Linked DNA regions of Homo sapiens: regions 2, 3, 4 and 5 are each linked to region 1. The links come from fine-mapping of genetic effects on gene expression. A gene starts in region 1. Each other region holds a variant in brackets. All regions are shown on one strand. Distances are between the middles of the regions.

Region 1 (5,094 bases):
CCAAGTCACCATGGGGGAAACGGAGGCATGGGCAGAGGAACTGAGCTGTACCTGGAAGTGGAAGACGCCTGCGTAGCCATGCTGGAAATCCTGTCCAGGAGGGACCACCCGGCGCAGGAGCCGGGGATACAGAGTAAGGGAGGCGGCAGCTGCAAGGAACCAGCAGTTACCTGGGAGGAGAGGCCAGGATTAGGTGAGGATGGAAGGAGGGAGGCCTGGTGCGGTGGCTCATGCCTCTAATCCCAGCACTTTGGGAGGCCAAGGCAGAAAGATCACGTGAGCCTAGGAGTTCAAGACCAGCCTGGCCAACATGGCAAGACTCCACTACAAGAAAATTTAAAAATTAGCTGGGCATGGTGGCATGCACCTGTAGTCCCAGCTACTTGGGAGGCTGAGGCAGGAAGATTGCTTGAGTCCAGGAGGTTAAGGCTGCAGTGAGCTATGATGGTGCCACTGTATTCCAGAATGGGTGACAGAGTGAGACCCCATCTCAAAAAAAAAAAAAAAAAAAAAAGGAAGGAAGGAAGGAGGGAGGAGGGAGAGAGAGGCCTAGGGAGAGAAGAGACTGAGGAGGGATCCAGGGGCCGGGAGTGGGTGGACAAAGGGATGGAGCTGTCAGGATCTCAGCTGAAACTAGCTGGATCTGAGGACTCCAGGTGGGTTCAGGGTCTCACCCAGGCTCCCCTGACACACGTCTGTGCGGCTCATGTCTTCACAGATGAACTTCGGCTCAGCACAGAACTCCTGTGGGTGGTGGGGGATTCCAGGCCTCAGCCTGAGAAAGCGAGGAAAGGTCTCATCCAGAGGAGTGAGGGCCTCCAAGCCCATGAAAGGCCTGGAAGCCTGTGGGCAGGAGCATGGCTTCCCTGGGTCTCCAGAAGTTGTGCTGAGCCAGTCCCATGGTAGCCCCCTCCTCCCTCAGACCCGGGAGTCCAGGCCCAGCCCCTCCTCCCTCAGACCCAGGAGTCCATGTCCCGAGCCCCTCCTCCCTCAGACCCAGGAGTCCAGGCCCAGCCCCTCCTCCCTCAGACCCAGGAGTCCAGGTCCCGAGCCCCTCCTCCCTCAGACCCAGGAGTCCAGGCCCAGCCCCTCCTCCCTCAGACCCAGGAGTCCAGGTCCCGAGCCCCTCCTCCCTCAGACCCAAGAATCCAGGTCCCCAGCCCCTCCTCCCTCAGACCCAGGAGTCCAGGTCCAGCCCCTCCTCCCTCAGACCCCGGAGTCCAGGTCCCCAGCCCCCTCTTCCCTCAGACCCAGGTGTCCAGGCCTTGGCCTCTCCTCCCTCAGATCCAGAAGTCCAGGTCCAAGCCCCCTCCTCCCTCAGACCCAGGAGTCCAGGTCCCCAGCCCCTCCTCCCTCAGACCCAAGAGTCCAGGCCCAGCCCTTCCTCCCTCAGACCCAGGAGTCCAGGCCCAGCCCCTCCTCCCTCAGACCTAAGAGTCCAGGTCTCGAGCCCCTCCTCCCTCAGACCAGGGAGTCCAGGCCCCCAGCCTTCCTTCCTCAGACCCAGGAGTCCATGCCTCCAGCCCCTCCTCCCTCAGACCCCAGAGCCCAGACCCCAGCCACACTTTACATGGGGCCTCATCCATTTCACGCCTTTGGCCTTCTCCGAGTCCGGCCCCAGCTGGTCATAGCCAAGGGCATCAGGGCCAGCAGGGAAGTAAGGGTCGCGGAACAGGATCCCCGAATCCAGGCAGGCTGCCCGAATTGCCTCATAGCTCTGGCCCCGAAAAAGCTGCAGGCGCCCGGCTCCGACCCCAGCCTCCTCATCCACGAGCTGGATGGTGACCCTCCCACTGCTGGATGCCATCTGGACACTGGCCTCACAAGCCGGCACCAGGCCCTTTAACCTCCTGAGTCACGGGGGCGGGGCCTCTCTTCCATTGGAGCCCCAGTGGGGTCTTTAGGCAATGAGGAGCCTTCCCTCGTTAATATTAATTGATGGTTTGGGGTGCTGGGGAGCAGGGACGCCTCTTCAGTAGCTTTCTTCCCAGGGCGTGGGGCCTTCAGTTGTGGCCAAGGTAGCAGCTTAATGGGCTTGGCCAGCAGCAGGAGAGAAGGCGGGCAGAGCTGAGGGAGGACCGGCTGCCGCTGTCAGAGCACCAAGAAGGAGGTCAGTGTGGGGGTGAGCTTCTGCCTACTTATGCCTGTGGGGCTGGGGAAGGAGGCGGGTTTACCTCGGTGTCTCTATCTCTCAGACTGCCTCTCTCCCCCTCCCTCTGACAGTTTCTCTCTCCCCGCCTTCATGTTTCTTCTCCATCAGTTTCTGGAGTGCAGTGGCACGATCTCAGCTCACTGCAACCTCCGCCTTCTAGGTTCAAGTGATTCTCCTGCCTCAGCCTCCCAAGTAGCTGGGATTACAGGCTCGTGTCACCATGCCCAGCTAATTTTTGTATTTTTTGTTAGAGAAGGGATTTTACCATGTTGACCAGGCTGGTCTTGAACTCCTGGCCTCAAGCAATCCGCCCACCTTGGCCTCCCAAAGTGCTGGGATTACAGACGTGAGCCACTGTGCCTGGTCAGGTTTTGTTAATTAAAAAAAATTTTTTTTAAAGTAGAGACAGAGGGGTGGCGGGGGGCGGTCCCATATGTTCCCCAGGCTGGTCTTGAACTGCTGGCCTCAAGTGATCCTCCTGCTTCAGCAGCCTCCCAGAGAGCTGGGATTACAGATGTGAGCTACTGTGCCTGGCCCTTTCTTGTTTTTTGTTTCTGGCAATATTTGTGTCTCTGTATTTCCCCAACTCCACCCCTCTCCCCACCCCACCCTCTTTTTTTTTTTTTTTTTTTTTTTGTAGAGATGGGGCGGGGATCTCACTTTGTTGCCCAGACTGGTCTCGAACTCCTGGGCTCAAGTGATCCTCCCCGCTTGGCCTCCCAAAGTGTTGGGATTACAGGCGTGAATCACTATGCCTGTCCCCTCTCTCTTTGTGTCTCTTTCAGCGTGTGTCTGTTCCTCTCTGTACCTGTCAGACCCAGGAGTCCAGGCCCCCAGCCCCTCCTCCTTCAGACCCTGTCAGTGTACCTTGTGTCTGCCTCCCTGTCTCTTCCTCTCCATCTTTCTGTCTGTCCCTGTAACCCATATGTGGCTCCTCCATCATCCACCGAGGGACCCTGAGCTCCCCTCCGCTCACGCCCCCTAAGCCCTCAGGATGCGCCTCCTCCCCTCCCGGACAAGGTAGACTCAGCCTGCTTGCCCAGGGAGGCTGACCCTGGAGGGATGGCTCTGTACCTCTCCTGTGCTGGGAGCCATCTGGTGACCATGATGCCCTGCCCTGGCCCACGCCACTCAGAGTCTGGATGGAGCAGTATTTCCCCCAAAGGACTCTGGAGCCATTGGAGGAAATGGGAGAAACAGGTACGGAGATGCCAGAGCCTCAGCAGTGCTGGTCCCAGCAGACCTTCCACCCTCGTTGAGGGTGTCTGCTGCCCTCCCAGAGCCTTGTCACCTCCACGCCACTCAGATGTCCCTCAAGCCTTTTGGCCTTCTTCCCTCCAAGTGGACCCACAAATATTGTCCAAGCCACCCACGTACACGGCTACCAAAAGTGGGTTACAAAACAGGCTTTCTGGCTGGGCGTGGTGGCTCATGCCTGTAATCCCAGCACTTTGGGAGGCCGAGGCAGGCAGATCACCTGAGGTCAGGAGTTCGAGACCAGCCAGGCCAATGTAGTGAAACTCCGTCTCTACTAAAATACAAAAATTAGCCGGACATAGTTGCGGGCACCTGTAATCCCAGCTACTCAGAAGGCTGAGGCAGGAGAACCGCTTGAATCTGGGAGGCGGAGGTTGCAGTGAGCCGAGATTGTGCCACTGCACTCCAGCCTGGGCAACAGGGCAAGACTGCATCTCAAAAAACCCCCCAAAACAGGGCCGGGCATGGTGGCTCATGCCCGTAATCCCAGCACTTTGGGAGGCTGAGGTGGGCAGAACACTTGAGGCCAGGAGTTCAAGACCAGCCTGGCCAACATGGTGAAACACCATCTCTATTAAAAATACAAAAATTAGGCTGGACGCGGTAGTTTACTACGCCTGTAATCCCAGCACTTTGGGAGGCCGAGACGGGCGGGTCAGGAGTTCCAGACCAGCCTGGCCAACATGGTGAAACCCCATCTCTACTAAAAAATACAAAAAAATTAGCTGGGTGTGGTGGCACGCACCTGTAATCCCAGCTACTCAGGAGGCTGAGGTAGGAGAATCGCTTGAACCCGAGAGGTGGAGGTTTCAGTGAGCCAAGACTGCACCACTGCACTCCAGCCTCGGCAAGAGAGCAAAACTCCATCTCAAAAAAAAAAAAAAAAAGGCCGGGCACGGTGGCTCAAGCCTGTAATCCCAGCAGCACTTTGGGAGGCCAAAGCAGGCAGATCACGAGGTCAGGAGATCAAGACCATCCTGGCTAACACGGTGAAACCCCATCTCTACTACAAAAAATACAAAAAATTAGCCAGGCATGGTGGCGGCCACCTGTAGTCCCAGCTACTCGGGAGGCTGAGGCAGGAGAATGACGTGGACCCAGGAGGCGAAGCTTGCAGTGAGCCGCCACTGCACTCCAGCCTGGTTGACAGAGCAAGACTCTGTCTCAAAAAAAAAAAAAAAAAAAAAAATTAGCTGGGCATGGTGGTACACACCTGTAATCCCAGCTACTCAGGAGGGTGAGGCAGGAGAATCGCTTGAACCTGGGAGGCGGAGGTTGCAGTGAGCCAAGATCACGCCACTGCACTCCAGCCTGGGTGAGAGAGTGAGACTCCATCTCAAAAAAAAAAAAAAAAAAGTTTTCTTCGTGTAGGATTGCCAAGCCCACCCCAGCCCCACGGGAGTCATATGGGAGTGCTTCCAGCCTGCCGGGATTAGGAGCCACAGCACCTGGGGTCCAATCCCAGCTCTGCCACCTACACCTGTGTGTCTTTGGGCACATCACTTAACTTCTCTGTGCTTCAGTTTCCTCATCTCTGCAATGCGGATGATGATAGGGCGTACCTCGGAGGGTTGCTGTGGGAAGCGAATGAGTTCGTACGTGGGATGAGTTCAGAGAAGTGCCTGACACAGAGTCGCTGCTCACTGCACGAGGCATTGACCATGCCTTGGCGTTCAAGAGTGTCT
Region 2 (5,000 bases), 90 kb before region 1:
GCCATCTGTTACTTTGTTCCATTACTCTAATTGCTTGCCTCTTAGGATCTGGCTAGGACTAACAGTTTTCAAAATTGAGTAACACACTTGACAAAAAAAAAGGAACCAAACTCAAACTCAACTGTTATCTAGAAAAAAGACTGTGTAAATATGTGTGAGAGGCAAGTATACTCTGTTTGCCCTCTTGTAAGAGGGATAGGGGAGGCCACTCAGCTGCTAGCACTCTGTTCTCTCCCCTCATCCTCTCCAGAATGTATTTTAGAACTTGACTCTTCTAATGACTGAAGAAAAGGTGGGGTATGGGAAGATGGCCTGGGACTGCAGGGTCACTTACACTCACCTGGCTAAGAGTTGAGATCTGGCTGGTGCCCTGGAGTGGCACCTGCCACTCACCTAATCCTAAACAATCCAGGGTGTGGGCCCAGGATTGCCCTCTGCCTTTTGAAACACCCTCCCTGGTTCCGGCTTCTAAGACCAACAGGGAGGCTACTTTGGTGGCAGGGAGCTGACTCACCCTCCAGTTGGAACTGGTGCTAAAAGCCTCCATTTAACGGCAGCCGACTGCTTGGCCCCAAGTGGGCTGCCTTGTGGGGGGGAAAGTTCAGTGGAAAGTGTTGGAGGAAGCAGGGTGGTGTGTGAATATCCAAGTAGTGCTGGTGCTATTAAGCTCTGACACAGTCAGGGAGGTCAGTTAAAATGTGGTCTTATGGCCGGGCGCAGTGGCTCGCGCCTGTAATCCCAGCACTTTGGGAGGCTGAGGTGGGCAGATCACCTGAGGTCAGGAGTTCGAGACCAGCCTGGCCAACATGGTGAAACCCCGTCTCTACCAATAATACAAAAATTAACTGGGCATGGTGGCAGGTGCCTGTAATCCCAGCTACTTGGGAGGCTGAGGCAGGAGAATCGCTTGAACCTGAGAGGTGGAGGTTGCAGTGAGCCAAGATCGCGCTACTGCACTCCAGCCTGAGTGACAGAACAAGACTCCATCTCAAAAAAAAAAAAAAAAATCAGATGACAGAGGGGAGCGGGGACAAGTTTTAAGTCTAAGCCTCCTGGGTGGGGAGTTCTGCTGTTTCAACATATGCTCCAGTCATGGCAGACTTTGGCCAGACAGCGCCCTTTTTCAGAGTGAACTGAGTGTAGCACAAGTTATCTGCCAGTGCTAGTTAGCAAACAGAATGGAGCCAAAAAAGAATTGATTTGGGAAGGCCCAAGGAATTTGAAACCGTTGAGATGAACACTTTCCGTTTTTGCTACACTGATTTATGTTGTGCTGGGAATTGTACAAGCCTTTGACCAGACCTTAGGGTTGTTCTTTAAAAAAAAAAAAAAAAGATTCCCTTGCTGCTGCTTTTACTTTTTTGAAGGGCAGAAGGGAAGGGCAAATATAATTAGTGAACAGCTGTTTGCTCTAGTATCACTTGCTCGTTCAGGTTTTCTGAATAGCTGAAATATCAACATGTTTATCTCTTCCCTTGCCTTAGTATATCCTAGAGCAGTGTTTTCCCCGGCTTTATCTTTATTCCTTCATTTAATGAACTCCGTGTTTTCATCACTCACATTTTGTTCCCTTCCCTCAGTTTCCTTCCTTTGCCTTCATTTATGTATTTAGTTTACAGAATAACAAAAGCACTCGTGTTACTTTTAAACAAGGTAAAACTTAAACAGTTTTTTCCTCCGTTTCTTTTTTTATGGAAATAAGAGGCAAGTGATAGCAAGTGGGTAATTCAATGGCAGTGGTAACTGAAGCACTGACCTGTTACAAGAGAGACGGAAGCTTCTACTTGAGCAGATACAAATACTGTCATCCGTGGAGATTTGAAAGAAGTCTTTCTATCACTGGGTAGTTTGAGAGCTCATTAGTCTTCTTTAGAATGGGTTTAAACTTGGAAACATCAAAGCAAGTTACAAGGAAACTTAGTTTTACAGTGTTGGCAGCCTAGGCGCCAGAATTTGTTATAAAGTGTCTGAAAGTGGCCCAGGTATCACTTAACTTTTCTTCAAGAAGGTCTATGAGTTACATTTTACTCGGTATCCCAGGCATCAAGGAGTGTAACTTTCAATGAATCAAAGAGAAACAGAATCATTTTAAATTCCAGCCTCTGTTTAAAGAAGGATCTTATGAAGGGGAGAAATTAACCACCTGACCCAGGGAAGGATCCCGCCTCCTCCAGAAAGTGAAATCGCCGGGTGTGGTGGCTCACGCCTGTAATCCCAGCACTTTGGGAGGTCGAGGTAGGTGGATCACGTGAGGTCAGGACTTCAAGACCAGCCTGGCGAACATGGTGAAACCCCATCTCTACTAAAATGCAAAAAATTAGCCGGGCACGGTGGTGCACCCCTGTAATCCCAGCTACTGGGGAGGCTGAGGCAGGATAATCACTCAAACCTGGAAGGTGGAGGTTGCAGTCAGCTGAGATCACGCCACTGCACTCCAGCCTGGACGACAGAGTAAGGCTCCGTCTCAAAAAAAAAAAAAAAAGAAAAAGAAAAGGAGTTAAATCTTTGCATATATTTAACTGGCAAGAGCATCCTTACATCAGTGCATGGGAAGTTTTATCCAAGTAGCAGTTTCCCTGGGATTATAAAAATCCCCGAGGCATTTGTCTTGGTGTTGTGCCTTTTTTTGGTTGTGTTTTTTCACGTCCCTCCCCTCCCCTTTCTCCATAAACAAGAGAGGCATTAACTTGGAATGTCCGTGGAAAGTCTTAGAAGCTGATTGGTGTAATTTGCCTGCCTTCCCTTTAGTTTGAACAGCGTTTACTCTGGAAGAGGTCAGTGGCCTTTTTCTTGGTTGTGATTTATGCAAGTGTTATCTGAAGGCGAGTGGAGTGAGTTTACGTGGGATTTGCTGTTTGCCACCTGTTGTTGTGCTGGCTCCTTCCTTCCTGGGATGAGTTCCATTCTCTCCCCCTCCCCCAGGAGTGAGGCTCCCCAGCCAGAGCAGTCCCCCTGTGCTTATCCCCTTCCTTCGTAAACTGCAGCCATTTGTGATTTTCCATAACCACTTTTATAGACACATAATAATTTCCTTTGAATCAGTTTGCATTTTAAATTAAGTTTTGAAAGGAAAACTGACAAGAGTATGGCAACTGGAAAACCCAGCTCCCCTGGCC[A/G]TAAATATAATAGAAGGAAACTGCAAAAATAAACACATTGAAAACAAAACAGTGTTGTTTCCAGGTGGTTACCACTCGGGCTGAAGGCCCCCCAGGCTTGAGGCCTGCTCCCTTTGTTAGAAAGGGATTGGCAAGTGTTGGTGAGGTGTTAAAGACCCACCAGCACCAAGCAGAGACTTTCTCTTTGAAGTCATCAGGTTTACAAGAGAATCAAAGGAAATAACTTTCTCAATGTGATTCAGGGTGTAATGTAAGGTGTAGATAACCCTTAAAATTTTCCATGTGTGTATGTCACACTTGGGAAAAAAACTTGATCTCATCTGGTCGAGGTGGGCAGGGCAGCACCTTGTCCAGGAGCACACAGCCCCTCTTGGCTCTGTGTGTCATCCGGCCATACTAGACTCGAACATATGGCTCATGACTGGATGATGCTTGATTCATCTTCAGTTTCAAGTGTTAGTGCTTTTGAGGTTTTGTAAGAAACCAGGACACATTGAAAATACAGTCATTTCTCAGTATCTGTGGGGGATTGGTTCCAGGAACCCCCTTATATACCAAAATCCACAGATGCTCAAGTTCCTTATGTAAGATAAAACGATGTGTAATTTGCATTTTAACTATGCACATCCTCCTGAATACTTTAAATCATCTCTAGATTACTTATAACCTAATGCTAAATGCTACGTAAATGGTTGTTACACTGTGCTGTTTAGGAAATAATGACAAAAATATGTACATGTTCAGTGCAGATGCAACCATTCATTTTTTTTCTTCCAGTATTTTCGATCCATTGTTGGTTGAATTCACAGATAGAGAACCCATGGATACAGAGGGCTAGCTGTAAGAAATGTGGGTTTATCATTTGTTCCTCACACAACTTTTTTCTTTCTTCGTTTTTCTTGCCTTTGTTCCTTTTTTTTGAGACAGGGTGTCACTCTTTTTACCAAGGCTGGAGTGCAGTGGAACAATCTTGGCTCACTGAAGCTTTGACCTCGGGCTCAAGCCATCCCCCCACCTCAGCTTCCCAAGTAGCTGGGACTAGAGGTGCACACCACCACGCCTGACTGATTTTTGTGTTTTTGTAGAGATGGGGTTTTGCTGTGTTGCCCAGTCTGGTCTCAGCCTCCCAAAGTCTTGGGATTACAGGTGTGAGTCACCACGCCCAGCCAACTTTTTCTCTTAAGGCTCCAGTTTTCTTCTTAGAGTTGGGCCCCTCCCACGAAGAAAGCACACTGCCACCCCTTCATCGGATTTGAACCCTACATTTTGAAAGGAAAGCAGTGCCCTCCTGCTGAGTTAACAAGGCTTATTTAAATGTTTTTCTTCCAAATATCAGAGCAGAACAGATTCTTTGTCTTCCAGTGGAACTATCCACATGGGGCAGAAGTAGTTGGAAGCGGCAGTTACTACCCTGCAGAACACAATGAAGTCATCTTGGGAAATATCGTGGATGGTGTTGCAATGATTGAATGGGATGCTAGAACACCAGCAATACAATAGCATTTGTGTCTTCAGCTTCAGGCAGGAATAAAGAAGACTTTGTGGTTTGTTTTATGTTTTTTAAAGTTTCCCCCCCAAAGGTGTGGGGCTGAGTGATGTCTGTCACTAGCTTTCTAGTGGGTTTTTCTTTTCATCTTTTCCCCTCCCTGATGTCTTTTGAGAGTGGGTGGAAGCCACAGTCTAGGTGGATCAGAGGAAGCACAGAAGGCAGGCAGTATACCCCACTTTGTGTTTTCCATGTCTGAAGGGAACACATTTGGTTTTTGTTCTGTTTTGATTTTTTAGAGACAGGGTTTCACTGTCACCCAGGCTGGAGTGCAGTGGCCTAATCATAACTCACTGCAGCCTTGAACTCTTGGGCTCAAGGGATCTTTCAGCCTCAGC
Region 3 (5,200 bases), 76 kb after region 1:
TGTTCTCCATGAGCCCACCCTGCTCTCCCTGTTTCCACCTGTGTCCCCAGTCTATTCCCTACAGGCAGCCAGGGGAAGCCAGTGGACACCTTCTTGGGTCAGATCCTCTTTTTTTTTATTTTATTTTTTTTATTTCAGACAGAGTCTCGCTCTTGTCGCCCAGGCTGGAGTGCAGTGGCAGGATCTCGGCTCAATGCAACCTCCGCCTCCCGGTTCAAGTGATTCTCCTACCTCAGCCTCCCAAGTAGCTGGGATTACAGGCGCCCACCACCATGCCCGGCTAATTTTTGTATTTTTAGTAGAGACGGGGTTTTGCCATGTTGGCCAGGCTAGTCTCAAACTCCTGACCTTGTGATCCACCCACCTCGGCCTCCCAAAGTGCTGGGATTACAGGCGTGAGCCACCGTGCCCGGCCCAGACCCTCTTTTTCCCACCTGTGGCTCTTAGAACAAAATGGAACGTCCTTGTCATGACTACCCTGCATGAACACTGTTCCCAACCTGTTACTTTGGGCACACTGGCCTCCAACTCTGTGTGTGTGTGTGTGTGTGTGTGTGTGTGTGCACTGTTCCCAACCTGTTACTTTGGGCACACTGGTCTCCAACTCTGTGTGTGTGTGTGTGTGTGTGTGTGTGTGTGCGGGCACGTGCATTTGAGCCCAGGAGTTGGAGGCTGCGGTCAGCTATGATCGCACCACTGCACTCCAGCCTGGGCGACAGAGCAAGACCCTGGCTCAAAAATAAAAAATAAAAAGAAAAGAAAATGGCAGGACAGAGAGGTGAAAAGACAAGTGGAAATAGGATCCAGATCACTGCCTGAGGGCTGTGCAGTGGTACAGAATCTTCTCATTGAGAAGGTGACCTTGAGTAAAGACCCAGAGGAGAGGGAGGGAGCCAAGGACCTTTGGGCTGACAACCATCCCTCCCTCTTCAACAGCCACAGACTGACTCCTTCACTTCCTTCAGCTATAGCTCAAAGGTCACCTCCTAGAGAGGCCCTCCCTGGCCAACCTGGCTCAACGATGGCCCCATCCCCCGCATCCTGACCCCGCCTTACCTCCGGGCTGCACAGCTGCTATCCTATAATTAGGTCCTTATCTGCTTGAGGGTCTGACTCCCTTTCTAGAATGTGAGCTCTGAGAACACAGGAGTTTTTGTCTTTCTGTCCACTGCTGCATCCCCTGGGCCTAGCACAGGGCCTGGCGCACACGAGCTGCTCAATAAATGATCAATACAGACAACAGTCCCTGTCCTCATGGGGAGGCAAACAAATGAATAAAAAAGTATATTTTGGGGCTGGGCGTAGTGGCTCACACCTGCAATCCCAGCACTTTGGAAGGCAGAGGCAGGAGGATGGCTTGAGGCTAAGATTTTGAGAACAGCCTGGGCAACATTGCAAGACCTCTTCTCTACAAACAATGAAAAAATTAGCTGCACATGAGGCTGGGCATGGTCACCTGTAATCCCAGCACTTTCGGAGGCTGAGGTGGGCGGATCGTTTGAGCCCAGGAGTTGCAGGCTGCGGTCAGCTATGATCGCGCCACTGCACTCCAGCCTGGGCGACAGAGCAAGACCCTGGCTCAAAAATAAAAAATAAAAAGAAAAGAAAATGGCAGGACAGAGAGGTGAAAAGACAAGTGGAAATAGGATCCAGATCACAGCCTGAGGCCAAAGTCCCCCTTACTTTTTTTTTTTTTTTTTTTTTTTTTGAGATGTAGTCTCACTCTATCGCCCAGGCTGGCGTGTAGTGGCGCGATCTCGGCTCACTGCAAGCTCCGCCTCCTGGGTTCACGCCATTCTCCTGCCTCAGCCTCCCTAGTAGCTGGGACTACAGGCGCCTGCCACCATGCCCGGCTAATTTTTTACATTTTTAGTAGAGACGGGGTTTCACTGTGTTAGCCAGGATAGTCTCCATTTCCTGACCTCGTGATCCGCCTGCCTCAGCCTCCCAAAGTGCTGGGATTACAGGTGTGAGCCACGGCGCCCGGCAATCCCCCTTACTTTTAACCAGCATGCCAGCTACTCAGATGACAGACATTTAGCAGCTAAGAGCAAGGACTCTATAGCCAGGCAGCATGAGTTCCAAAATCCCAGCTCTGCCACTTACAAGCTGTGATTATTGGGTAAGTTTCTTGCTCTCTGGATCTGTTTCACCTTTAAATGGGGCTTATAGCAGAACCTGTCTTGTGGACTGTGATTAGAATTAATATGTTTAACGTGCTTAGAAAGGGGCGTCACACACCATGAGTGCTACATAATTGTGGCCACCTTTTTCTTTCTCTAATTAGTAGTTCTACTCTATCACTGGGTCACTGCATGACCTGCCGTTTCTTCCTTCTGGCCTTCGGGGTCTTGCTGCTGAAAATAAGATAAGACGGCCACATTCAGCTGGGAGCTGAAAGATGAAGGACCTGGGCCCGGCACAGCCACAAAAAAGCCCCATTTTTCTGTTCTCAGACATGATCTCTATGAGAGCAAGGGGTCAGGAATC[G/A]GGGCTGCTTCCCGTTTCCACATCTGCAGCACCCAGGAGGGGGCTCTGGCACTGGACTGTGTCACTGAATGTTTGTCAAATGAATGAACAAATGAACAAGAGGAGGAACAGAGGGAGATGCAGAAAGAAAGCAGGAGGCTGGGTGCGGTGGCTCATGCCTGTGATCCCAGCACTTTGGGAGGCTGAGGCAGGAGGATCGCTTTAGATCAGGGGTTCGAGACCAGCCTGGGCAACATAGCAAGCCCTGCCTCTACAAAAAGTGAAAAAACTTGCTGTGCATGGTGGTGCACACCTGTGGTCCCAGCTACTTGAGGGGCTGAAGTGGGAGGATGAGGGGAGGTGGTAGGGGCTGAGGTGGGAGGGGTTGAGCTCAGGAGGTGGAGGCTGCAGTGAGCTGAGATTGCTCCACTGCATTCCAGCCTGGGTGACAGAGGGAGACCCTGTCTCAAAAATGAAAGAAAGAGAGAGAGAAGGAAGTGAGAGGTGACAGCATGCTGGCAGCCCTTGCTCGCTGGCCTCAGAGCCCACTCTGGCCATGCTTGAGGAGCCCTTCAGCCTGCTGCTGCACTATGGGAGCCCCTCTCTGGGCTGGCCAAGATCGGAGCCGGCTCCCTCTGCTTGCAGGGAGGTGTGGAGGGAGAGGCGCGGGCGGGAACCCAGGCTGCACGCAGTGCTCTCCGGCCAGCGCAAGTTCCGGGTGGGTGTGAGCTCGGCGACCCCGCACTCGGAGTGGTGGGCCGGCGCCACCTGCCCTGAGCAGTGAGGGGCTTAGCACCTGGGCCAGCAGCTGCGGAGGGTACACCGGGTCCCCCAGCAGTGCCGGCCCGCTGGTGCTGCACTCGAATACTTGCCGGGCCTCAGCTGCCTCCCTGTGGGGCAGGGCTTGGGACCTGCAGCCTGCCATGCCCGAGCCTCCCCCCGCCGCCGTGGGCTCCTGCACAGCCCGAGCCTCCCCGAGGAGCGCCACCCCCTGCTCGGCGGCGCCTGGTCCCATCAACTGCCCAAGGGCTGAGGAGTGCTCCGCCTGCGGCCCTGGTGCAGGATCCACTGGGTGAAGCCAGCTGAGCTCCTGAGTCTAGTGGGGATTTGGAGAACATTTATGTCTAGCTGAGGGACTGTAAATGCACCAATCAGCACTCTGTATCTAGCTAATCTGGTGGGGACTTGGAGAACGTTTATGTCTAGCTAAGGGATTGTAAATACACCAATCAGCACTCTGTTTCTAGCTCAAGGTTTGTAAATGCACCAATCAGCACCCTGTGTCTAGCTCAAGGTTTGTAAATGCACCAATCAATGCTCTGTGTCTAGCTCATCTGGTGGGGACTTGGAGAAACTTTATGTCTAGCTAAGGGATTGTAAACAACCAATCAGCACTCTGTGTCTAGCTCAAGGTTTGTAAATGCACCAATCAGCACCCTGTGTCTAGCTCAAGGTTTGTAAATGCACCAATCAGCACTCTGTATCTAGCTAATCTGGTGGGGACTTGGAGACTCTTTATGTCTAGCTAAGGGATTGTAAACAACCAATCAGCACTCTGTGTCTAGCTCAAGGTTTGTAAATGCACCAATCAGCACCCTATGTCTAGCTCAAGGTTTGTAAATGCACCAATCAGCACTCTGTATCTAGCTAATCTGGTGGGGACTTGGAGAATCTTTATGTCTAGCTAAGGGATTGTAAATACACCAATCAGCACTGTGTGTCTAGCTCAAGGTTTGTAAATACACCAATCAGCACCCTGTGTCTAGCTCAAGGTTTGTAAATGCACCAATCAGTGCTCTGTGTCTAGCTAATCTAGTGGGGACTTGGAGAAGTTTTGTGTCTAGCTCAGGGATTGTAAACGCACCAGTCAGCACCCTGTCAAAATGGACCAATCAGCTCTCTGTAAAACAGACCAATCAGCTCTCTGTAAAACGGACCAACCAGCAGGATGTGGGTGGGGACAGATAAGGGAATAAAAGCAGGCTGTCCGAGCCAGCAGTGGCAACCCACTCACGTCCCCTTCCATGCTATGGAAGCTCTGTTCTTTTGCTCTTTGCAATAAATCTTGCTGCTGCTCACTCTTTGGGTCCACACTGCCTTTATGAGCCATAACACTCACCGCGAAGGTCTGCAACTTCTCTCCAGAGGCCAGCAAGACCACGAACCCACTGGGAGGAATGAACAACTCCGGACGGGAGGAACGAACCACTCTGGACGCACCGCCTTAAGAGCTATAACACTCACTGCGAAGGTCTGCAGCTTCATTCCTGAAGCCAGCGAGACCACGAACCCACCAGAAGGAAGAAACTCTGAACACACCCAAACATCAGAAGGAACAAACTCCGAACACATCAGAAGGAACAAACTGCGGACATGCCGCCTTTAAGAACTGTAACACTCACCACGAGATTCTGCGGCTTCATTCTTGAAGTCAGTGAGACCAAGAACCCACCAATTCCGGATACATTTTGGTGACCCAGATGGGACTATTACCTATCGCCAAGCGGTGAGACCACTGCCTATCGCTGAGCGGTGAGACTATCACCTATCGCCAAGCAGTGAGTACCACTGGACCCCTTTCACTTGCTATTCTGTCCTATTTTTCCTTAGAATTTGGGGGCTAAATACCAGGCACCTGTCTGCCAGTTAAAAGTGACTAGCATGGCCGCTGGACTAAAGACATGGGTGTCAGGCTTTCTGGGAAAGGGCTCTCTAACAACTCCCGACTCTT
Region 4 (5,000 bases), 73 kb before region 1:
TTTGTTATTTGGGGACACTTTGGAATATGTCACTCAGAATGCTGGCTCACTAGCTCCACAAGCAAAAGACTCCTTGGGTAGCTGGAAGCAAGCGTTGGGGGAAGGAGGGAGAGGCAATTGCAGTCCAGCCAAGAATCTCAAGGCTCAGTCTTCAATGTATGGAAACTTCAGTCCTTTTCTGATCTTTAGTGGAAATAGCTGTTCACTCTTAGCGCCAATTGGAAAGTGTTGGCAGCTGAAGGGGGTCGTTCCTCAGGGGTCCCCAGAGCCAGTGTATCTGGTATTTCTAACATTTTCCTAGCCACCCCTTTCTCCTCCATATGCCCCTCCCAGCCCCACCATTCAGATAGGGTGGCTGGAAAGAACATCTCCTAGGTCCTCTAGGAAACTTGGTGTTTCCACTCAAGGGAGTTGGGGATCACGTAACACCCTCCACTTCCACCTGGGATTTCAGGCCATCTGTGGGAGTGCAAGAGCATGGTGGGGTGGAGGTCACAGGAAGGTGGAAGCAAAGCCAGGGCAGCTCCACATGCAGCCCCCTTTCAGGAACAGCAAGGATAGGCCGGCCTGTATCTTGTTGCTCAGAGCAGGTGATCCTGTCATTTGGACCCTTGTGAGGAGAATGGATGTGAGTGTGCACCTGGTTCTCTTCTCCTGGGGCTGAGGGACTGTGGTCTTGGATTATCACATGGTAGGTGAGGTGACAAAATGGAGGGAAGTAGCCTGGGTGGGGACTGGGGTGGCCACTGCAGAGCTCTAGCTGATGGTGGCCAGGTGGGAATGGGGACCTGGGACTTCACGAAGCTGGAAATGGAGAGTTTTATGGGGCATTTCATTCAACTTAAAAACCTGGCCGGGTACAGTGGCTCACGCCTGTAATCCCAGCACTTTGGGAGGCTGAGGAGGGTGGATCACGAGGTCAGGAGATTGAGACCATCCTGGCCAACATGGTGAAACCCCATCTCTACTAAAAATACAAAAATTAGCTGAGCGTGGTGGCTTGTGCTTGTAATCCCAGCTACTCGGGAGGCTGAGGCAGGAGAATCCCTTGAACCAGGGCGTCGGAGGTTGCAGTGAGCTGAGATGTCGCCATTGCACTCCAGCCTGGTGACAGAGCAATACTCCAACTTAAAAAAAAAAAAAAAAACCTGCAGGCCATACAAAATAGGGCCTATTGGGTGTGAAGAGCTACCCATTTGTGACCCCTAACCTTGCATGGTCTTGACCCTGTCTCTGCCTCTCCTCTAGTCTCCCCTTTCCTCTTGTCTGAATTGCTGCTGCTTAATCCTCTCACTAGGAGCGAGAAAATTGTACTTTGCCCCTTAGTGACAGCTCTGATAAAAGGTGGTTGAAGTGGATGGTAGTAAAAAGGGTTTGCTTTAGCTGTGGTTTTCCAGCCTCCGGACTCCTCCCCCTTTCCCATCACCATAGATAATTAAGAGTTGACTCCTCAAAATTCCTCCCACCATATTGCATATTTTTAGGCTTCAGGTTTTTGTGAACCAAAATAGTGGAAAGTTTTTTTGTTTGTTTGTTTTGGGTAGCCCAAAGCAACACTTTTCTACAGAGGCAGCCATTCTGCACGCACAATAACCTGGTGAACAATGCCAGCTTTCTATTAATAAATGAACTGCCAGTTCAGAATTTGTACCCATGTGGCAGATGGACAGAAATAGTTTCTTTAGGATTGATCTCTTAAATTTGACTTTGGGAAGATACTGGCAGTCCAGGTTTTGTGACAGAGATCCATCCTGAGATCTTTGTAAATGGAAAAGCCTGAATGCAGCGTTTCTTATTGATAGGAGAGTTGATGGATTTCAGGAAAATGGGATATAGTAGATGTGCAATGAATTTGTTGACTTGGAAACAAATTTGGACACTTATCCCTGAAAACTTCAGGCCATTTTTTCCTAAACTCTAATTGAGTCCCTGTGATTGGAGTACTAGCCCCACAGTCCTTATCAAACTTCGCATTTGGAGCAGGCAGTCTGTCTGGGAAAAGCCAGGAAGCTCGCCATGAAGGCATCGCCCTCTGCTTTTAACTTTTTTAGGCTCTGTTACCTCTGCACTGGCTTGAGTATTTCCTGGCTCAATTGTTTCTCAGGCTGGCCTTGAGTCCTTAGATGTTATTTGTGTGCCTAGAAATAGCTGGAAGAAAAATGGTTGTAATGCTTTGCATTGCTCACTGCTCTCCATGGATGGAAATTCTGTGAGGGAAAGAGGGCTTTCCACCCAGAAAAAGAGCTGGGCAGCGTAGACTTCATTGTCCTGCTGGCCTGTCATGTTATTCTGCTATACTACAGCGATTAGGATGAGAGAGTTTCTCGCTCTCCCTGGGTGTGCCACCTAAGGTACATTAGGGTAGGGACGAACATGGCGGGAGTTCTCATAGTGGGCTTTCCTGCCAGACGTATGGCCCACACAGCAGTATTTCTTACATGTGGTTCTTTTTTTTTTTTTTTTTTTTGAGACGGAGTCTTTCTCTGTCGCCTAGGCTGGAGTACAGTGGCGTGATATCGGCTTACTGCAACCTCCACCTCCCAGGTTCAAGCAATTCTCCTGCCTCAGCCTCC[T/C]GAGTAGCTGGGACCACAGATGCATGCCACCACACCTGGCTAATTTTTGTATTTTTAGTAGAGACGTGGTTTCTCCATGTTGGCCAGGCTGGTCTTGAACTCCTGACCTCAAGTGACCCACTCGCCTTGGCTTCCCAAAGTGTTGGGATTACAGGTGTGAGCTACCACACCCTGCCAAGGTTCTATTATTTGATCTATGTTCTTTGTTTGTTTGTTTGTTTGTTTTGAGATGGAGTTTCGCTCTTGTTGCCCAGGCTGGAGTGTAATGGCACGATCTCGGCTCACCGCAACCTCTGTCTCCCGGGTTCAAGCAATTCTCCTGCCTCAGCCTCCTGAGTAGCTGGGATAACAGGCATGTGCCACCACACCCGGCTAATTTTGTATTTTTAGTAGAGACGGGGTTTCTCCATGTTGGTCAGGCTGGTCTCAAACTCCTGAACTCAAGTGATCCACCTGCCTTGGCCTCCCAAAGTGTTGGGATTACAGGCGTGAGCCACCATGCCCGGCCCCTGTAACCATTTTTAAGTGATTGATCATCTCAGCATGATTGATGGAGATGATGGGGTTGGCCATCCATTCTTTTTTTTTTTTTTTTTTGGAGACAGTCTCACTCTGTCTCCAAGGCTGGAGTGCAGTGGCACAATCTTGGCTCACTACAACCTCTGCCTCCTGGGTTCAAGCGATTCTTCTGCCTCAGCTTCCCAATTAGCTGAGATTACATGCATGCACCACCATGCCTGGCCAGTTTTTGTGTTTTTAATAGAGACAGGGTTTTATCATGTTGGCCAGGCTGGTCTCAAGCCCCTGACCTCAGGTGATCCCCCCACCTCAGCCTCCCAAAGTGCTAGGATTACAGGCATGAGCCACCACACCCGGCCTATTCATCATTTATTGAGCATTTATTTATACCCACTATGTGCCGTAAACAAGGTGCTGAGTAATGAGATGTGAACAGAATAGTCCTTCTTCTTGTCCTCATGGAGCACACAGCCTAGTCGGGGACAATAGGCATTAAAAAATACCAACAATGAAAACCCAAGACATACATAGAGTGTTCCAAATTGTGGTTTTATTTTTTATATATATATATTCATATATATTTATATATATTTATATATATATTCATATATATTTATATATATGAATATATATTTATATATATTCATATATACTTATATATATTTATATATACTTATATATATTTATATATATTCATATATATTTATATATATTCATATATATTCATTTATATTTATATATATTCATATATATTTATATATATTTATATATTTATATATATTATATATATTTATATATTTATATATATTATATATATTTATATATTTATATATTTATATATACTTATATATATTTATATATTTATATATATTTTTATATATATATATTTATATATGTATAATTTTTTTTTTTTTTTTTTTTGTGATGGAGTCTCTATCACCCAGGCTGGAGTGCAGTAGCGTGATCTCAGCTCACTGCAACCTCTGCCTCCCAGGTTCAAGCAATTCTCTGCCTCAGCCTCCTGAGTAGCTGGGATTACAGGTGCCTGCCACCACGTCCGGCTAATTTTTGTATTTTTAGTAGAGATGGGATTTCACCATCTTGGCCAGGCTGGTCTTGAACTCCTGACCTTGTGATCTACCCGCCTCGGCCTCCCAAAGTGCTGGGATTACAGGCGTGAGCCACTGCGCCCGGTGTGATTATTTTTATGAAGGAAAAGACCAGAGTCCTTTAAGAGGGGACAGTGGGGGACTTGCAATAGATTGTGTGGGAGCTGTCAGGGGAGACTTTCCAAGATGATGACAGTGAAGTGAGGCCTGGAGGGAGAGTTAGAGCCAACCTCAGAGAAGGGAACACTGTTCTAGGCAGGAGGACCCAGGGTTGTGGGAAGAGAGAAATAAAATGAGACCAAGACAGTGGGGAGAGCAGTGTGAGTTGAAGTCAGAGGGGTGACAGCAGCCAGAATGTGCCGGTAGCGAGGATCTTGGATTTTATTCTAGCTGCAATGAGAGCTTTGATTCTACAAATATTTATTGCGTGCTAGTCACTGTTTTAGGTACTGGGTGTACAACAGTGAAAAAAGAACTTCCCAGCCGAGTGGAATGCCGTGGAGCATATCTGTTTCGATGCTGGGACAGATCCCTAACACAGCTCATTAAAGCAGATAGCACCATTCCGTCTCTTTCTTCAGCTTCACTTTACGTCAGTCCCAGCATTTTTATCCCTACCCTTACAGATGAGAGAACTAAAGTTCAGAGAGGTGACGTGACTTGCCCCAGGCCCCTCAGTCAGTAAAAGACAGAACTGAGAATCCAACCAGACTCTTCCCTTTTTAGGTTATTTCTCTAACATTAGGGCCGAGTATCGATTCTCTTTACCTCTGACTTCGTGTCCCTGGTATTAAGACTC
Region 5 (5,200 bases), 44 kb after region 1:
CTCATCAAGGGCTGGATGCAGTGGCTCATGCCTGTAATCCCAGCATTTTGGGAGGCTGAGGTGGGTGGATCACTTGAGGGCAGGAGTTCAAGACCAGCCTGGCCAACATGGTGAAACCCTGTCTCTACTAAAAATACAAAAATTAGCCATGAGTGGTGGCACATGCTTGTAATCCCAGCTACTCAGGAGGCTGAGGCAGGAGAATCACTTGAACCTGGGAAGCAGAGGTTGCAGTGAGTCGAGATCGTGCCACTGCACTCCAGCCTGGGTGACAGAGCAAAACTCTGTCTCAAAAACAAACAAACAAACAACAACAACAACAACAAAAACCCATCAAGGATGCAATCAAGGATGCAGATCTGTTACCAGAAAGGAGTCAGGACTTCAGGCTAATAATAGAGTGAATGGAAAGCTTTGGCCAGTCAGCAAAGGCACGTTGGGACTTGCAGCATGTTGGCTGCATGTGAAGTTACATCCAGCCACAGTGAAGCGATCACTAAAAAGTTGAGTTCCTGGGAAACACGGTACACAGCATGAGGCGTCAGTAATGTGAGGAGTGTGTTCTTTAGAATGGTCAATAATGTTAGAATGATGGAGTTCACCATTCAAGGGAACATTCTCGGGAACTAACTGAGCTGCGCTGGTGGTGTGATCACCGGACACCCTGCTGTCCTCTCTGTCCGTGCCCATGACATGTCCTTGGCACAGACACCCCTGTGGAGCCCAGGGCCTGGCCGCTTCCTTGGCTGAGAAGCTGTCCCTGTCTAGGCCTCAGTTTTGTCTTCTGCAGAATGGGGGTGCTTGCAGCTCCCACTGAAATGCAGCTGCAAGCCTCCCTCTCTGAGCTCACGTCCCTAGGAACTGGTCCCCCACCTTGGTGCCTTGGAGTGTGTGGGGAGGGGGCAAGAGGCTGGGGGCCTGGGACAAAGAGGGTGGAGGATGGTTCTGGGTCTGGTGTCTCCACCCAAACTTTCCACTGCCAGCCTGCCTCTGCCCAGGCCTCTCAGCAGCCTGCTGGGTGGGGCAGGAGTGCAGGAGTTGGGTGGGGAGTGGAAAAGGTCCAGGAGGGCTGCTGCATTGCTAGGAGTGGTTTATTTTTATTTATTTATTTGTTTGTTTGTTTATTTATTTTTGAGATGGAGTCTTGCTCTGTTGCCCAGGCTGGAGTGCAGTGGCGCGATCTCGGCTCACTGCAAGCTCTGCCTCCCGGGTTCATGCCATTCTCCTGCCTCAGCCTCCCGAGTAGCTGGGACTACAGGTGCCCGCCACCATGCCCGGCTAATTTTGTTTTGTATTTTTAGTAGAGACGGGGTTTCACCGTGTTAGCCAGTATGGTCTCGATCTCCTGACCTCGTGATCCACCCGCGTCGGCCTCCCAAAGTGCTGGGATTACAGGCTTTATTTTTATTTTTTGAGACAGAGTCTAGCTCTGTCGCCCAGGCTGCAGTGCAGTGGTGTGATCTCGGCTCACTACAACGTCCGCCTCCCCAGCTCAAGCAATTCTCCTGCCTCAGCCTCCCAGGTAGCTGGGATTACAGGTGTCCACCACCACACCTGGCCAATTTTTTGTATTTTCTATAGAGAAGGGGTTTCACCATGTTGGCCAGGCTGGTCTTGAACTCCTGACCTCAAGTGATCCACCTACCTTGGCCTCCCAAAGTGCTGGGATTACAGGCGTGAGCTACCATGCCCAGCCAGGAGTGGTTTCTGTTCAGCTCCCACACCATCCCTGCCTTTCAGAAACAGATTTCAGTCCTGCCCGCCCCCCCCCCCCCCCCCGCCTCCCCCAGTCTACTTCCCCAACCCTGGATTCTCTTCTAGAGTCTTGGGCCCAAGCGGGCTATATTGGGGCTGGCGGGAGGGTCCCCACCTTGCTCTGCTTTTGATCTAGGTGGTGATGGAATGCTAGGCCACCCACCACCCTAAAACCCACCTCATCCTGACCTGCAAAATTGGTGGGAAGATGGTAACAGTCCTGGAAGGAGGAACAAGAGAGACTTGAAGGAGAGAAGTGGGACAGGAATACGCGGTAGACAGTTATAGACAGAGACAAACAGAGCCAGACAGCCAGCCCCAGAGACAGAACCCACAGGAGAGGCACGCCCAGAGGTGAGGAAAGGCAGAGGTTGGGGCAATGGGTCCTGCCCGGCTTGTGGAAAATCACTTCCCATCCCAGCCTCAGCCTCCTTCTCTGTACAATGGGGGTGACCCATGCTTCTCTCTGTTGGAATGGTGGGGTCCCAATCAGTGATTTCCTGCATATCCTGGGCAGCCCAAGGGCCTGGGAAATGACAAGCGTAGTCCTAGTGGATCCCCTCCTTTCACCCCTCCTGACTGAGGACTTCCCATGAACCCGGCACACTCCAGGACCCAGGGGTGCAGCACTGAGCCAACCAGGCCGCCCTCCGACCCTGTGAAGTCCCCCTGTCTGGCACTATCGTCGTTGTTGTGGCTGCTGTTCCACTGGAGACTTAGAAGCAGGGATTTCAGCGCAGACATTTCCAGTCTAGGCAGGAGGTTCTCAGCTGGAGAGAAGGGTCTAGAGTTCCCGCTGGGCTTGGCTTCTCAGGACCCAACATGTCTGTGGATAAAATGAGCATGAGAGACTCTCCTGTGTGCCAGGCAGTGGGAAGACAGGGGTGGAGGGGCGGTGGCTCTTATTATCAGCTCCTAGGAGAGGGGCAGTGCACCCGGGCTCTGGGTGATGGGGGGATCAGGGCCCCCAAGAAGAGGCGCCACTCCCACTTCGCCAGGCTTGCCCCAGGGCCAGGGTCCGTGCCAGGTGTGGGTGGTGGGTGGGAAGGGGTGGGGTGAGTCATCAGGGCCAGCCC[C/T]GCCCTGCTTTTATTTAAGGTCCCCAGCAGGCCCCACCACCACGGCTGCCCAACCCGGTCCCAGCCATGTCCGTGAGTGCTCCAGGGGCCCGGGGCGGGGCCAAGCAGGGAGGGGGCTGGGGGCTCCTCTTTCAAAGGAGCAAGTGGGCAGTGAGTGTGCCACGGACTGGCCTGGGCTGTGGCCTCCGGGTAACCCCCATCCCGACTGTCCCCTCTACCTCTTTGTGGCTTCCTCTGGGGCCCTCTTTGAGGATCTTTCTGTTTGTCTTTGTTGCTCTCCCCATCTGTTTCCCTGTCTGTTTCTGGTCTCTTTCCTGCCTCTCCGCCACCCTTTCCTCTTCCACTGATTTCTGCCAGTCTCAGCCCTGGTCGGCTCCTCTGAGGGGTGACCCACCTTCTGCCTCCCTCCTTCGGTCTCACCGGCTCACAGTGGCCCCTGCACCCCACTCTTGCAGAACGTCCCCCACAAGTCCTCACTGCCCGAGGGCATCCGCCCTGGCACGGTGCTGAGAATTCGCGGCTTGGTTCCTCCCAATGCCAGCAGGTGAGGCCCCAGGCCCTAGGGGTAAAGGGTACAGGTCTCAGGATCAGCTGACTCCCAATTTTTGCAGTCCAGAAGTAGGGGCCCGAGGCCACCTGTATCCACCAGGCTAGGAGTCCGAGGCCATTTCTGACCTCAAATCTGATGTATTCGTATTTGCCCCCGTGCCTTTGTGGCTGGGGTCCCTAAGTTTCCCTAAGCATTTGAGGTCCCTGGGTAATCTCAGGGTTCCTAGATATAGTCCTATGACTTCCATGTCTGAGTCCCAGGGAACTCTGGAAATACTCCAAGTCCTGGAGACACCCTGGACCCTGGGAGTCCTTGCCAAGCCATCCTTTGACTTCCTGGCTAAGGAACTTCGGGCCTTCTGGATTCTGAGGTACCCTGGAAATACTGGGGTTCCTGGTATTATTCTTTGTCCTGTAGAAGCTGAGGGTTCCCTGAGCATCAGGAGCACCCTGGCTATCACCCAGACCTCCTGGGCAGCTCCCAGGCTCTTTGGAAATGAGGGCACCCTGCCCTAAGCGTAGTGAGTTTGGTCTGGGTAGGTTTCTGCCAAGGGCCTCATGATATTTTGGCTGCCTTGGGAATCTAAGCTCCCTGGTCATTAGTCGCCCACCTCTCCTTCTGCGGTGTGTGCCTGTCTTCAGGTCCCTGTTAATTTGGGGGTACTCTGGGAATGGGGAGTGCCAGCCCATAAGACCTTCACTTTGGTCTGGGCGGTTTATGTTTTGTTTGTTCTTTCGTTTTTTTGTAAGGTGGGGTCTCGCTATGTTGCCCAGGCTGGTCTTTAACTTCCGGGCCCAAGCGATCCTCCCTTCTCCACCTCCCAGAGTGCTGGGATTACAGGGTGAGCCACTGCACCCAGCCAACATTTCATTTACTTATTCATTCAAAGTAAATTGTAGACATCGGTATTCCTCACCCTCAACATTTCTTGGTCTGGGTGGTTTCTGAGCCCTGACGGCCACCATCCCCCTCTTCCAGGTTCCATGTAAACCTGCTGTGCGGGGAGGAGCAGGGCTCCGATGCCGCCCTGCATTTCAACCCCCGGCTGGACACGTCGGAGGTGGTCTTCAACAGCAAGGAGCAAGGCTCCTGGGGCCGCGAGGAGCGCGGGCCGGGCGTTCCTTTCCAGCGCGGGCAGCCCTTCGAGGTGCTCATCATCGCGTCAGACGACGGCTTCAAGGTGCGTCTCTGCGACAGGGGCGTGGACGCCAAGACTTAGGTCCCTGGAGCAGAGGGTTGGGCAAAGCCAGGCTATTGGTGGAAGGCAGGGAGGTTCGGGGCGGGGTGAGGGGGGTAGGGAAGTCGTGGCCAAGGCGGAGAAGGGTGTCCTTCGACCCTCTCTCTCGCCTAAACAACTCCCACTTGGGTCCGAGGGACAGAGAGACAGCAGGGTCAGGACGAGGCGAGCACCAGCCAAGTGTCCAAGGGGTGGGCGTCCTAGCGGGAAGGCGTGGCCCAGACTCGCCATCCCAGACCCTACTCCCAGTTCATTCCTTCCTGAGGTCCGGGGTTTGAGGCATGGGGAGGGATGGGTTGGAAACAGCGCCCAGGAACTCGTCCTAGCAAGGATTGGCGGGTGGGAGTGGCGGCAGATCCTCCACCACCCACAGCTTACGCGAATTCACCTCCCTCCTCTGCGCTTTAATAGCGGGTAATGGTCGCTGAAATGAGAATATCCATTACCAGCACTAAAAAAGCCGCTTTTTACTGTGCCACACAGTCAACTCGTTTGATCCTCACGCAAGAGTTAGAATGAACAATAGCCCCATTTTCCCAGTGAGGAAACTGAGGCCCAGAGGGGATGAGTGATTTCCCCAGG

The links. PIP is the estimated chance that this variant, and not a neighbour inherited with it, causes the effect.
Region 2: its variant is the best candidate, but not a certain one, in a credible set for the expression of CAPN12 in whole blood (TOPMed, PIP 0.53).
Region 3: its variant is the best candidate, but not a certain one, in a credible set for the expression of CAPN12 in whole blood (INTERVAL, PIP 0.60).
Region 4: its variant is the best candidate, but not a certain one, in a credible set for the expression of CAPN12 in prefrontal cortex (BrainSeq, PIP 0.57).
Region 5: its variant is the best candidate, but not a certain one, in a credible set for the expression of CAPN12 in sun-exposed skin (GTEx, PIP 0.70).

What each region holds. Positions count from the first base shown.
Region 1 is chr19:38,742,359-38,747,452 of GRCh38, forward strand. CAPN12 (calpain 12) reads right to left here and starts at 2,116. Exons shown (of 21, transcript NM_144691.4): 1 at 1,571-2,116; 2 at 675-744; 3 at 52-170. The coding sequence starts at 1,807.
Region 2 is chr19:38,652,096-38,657,095 of GRCh38, forward strand. The region is part of intron 1 of ACTN4 (actinin alpha 4); the gene reads left to right. Among named protein-coding and RNA genes, the nearest start is that of ACTN4, 6.9 kb to the left of the region's middle. RefSeq lists enhancers at 30-639, 640-1,248, 1,787-2,655, 2,656-3,524 and a silencer at 3,644-3,693. The variant A/G (reference allele first, on the strand shown) is at 3,117.
Region 3 is chr19:38,818,371-38,823,570 of GRCh38, forward strand. The region is part of intron 3 of ECH1 (enoyl-CoA hydratase 1); the gene reads right to left. It overlaps LOC124904712 (a long non-coding RNA gene), which reads left to right and starts at 4,470. Exons shown (of 2, transcript XR_007067252.1): 1 at 4,470-5,027. The variant G/A (reference allele first, on the strand shown) is at 2,491.
Region 4 is chr19:38,669,792-38,674,791 of GRCh38, forward strand. The region is part of intron 1 of ACTN4 (actinin alpha 4); the gene reads left to right. Among named protein-coding and RNA genes, the nearest start is that of ACTN4, 25 kb to the left of the region's middle. RefSeq lists enhancers at 4,605-4,654, 4,825-4,894, 4,925-5,000. The variant T/C (reference allele first, on the strand shown) is at 2,574.
Region 5 is chr19:38,786,330-38,791,529 of GRCh38, forward strand. LGALS7B (galectin 7B) reads left to right here and starts at 2,871. Exons shown (of 4, transcript NM_001042507.4): 1 at 2,871-2,903; 2 at 3,287-3,375; 3 at 4,360-4,561. The coding sequence starts at 2,898. The variant C/T (reference allele first, on the strand shown) is at 2,832.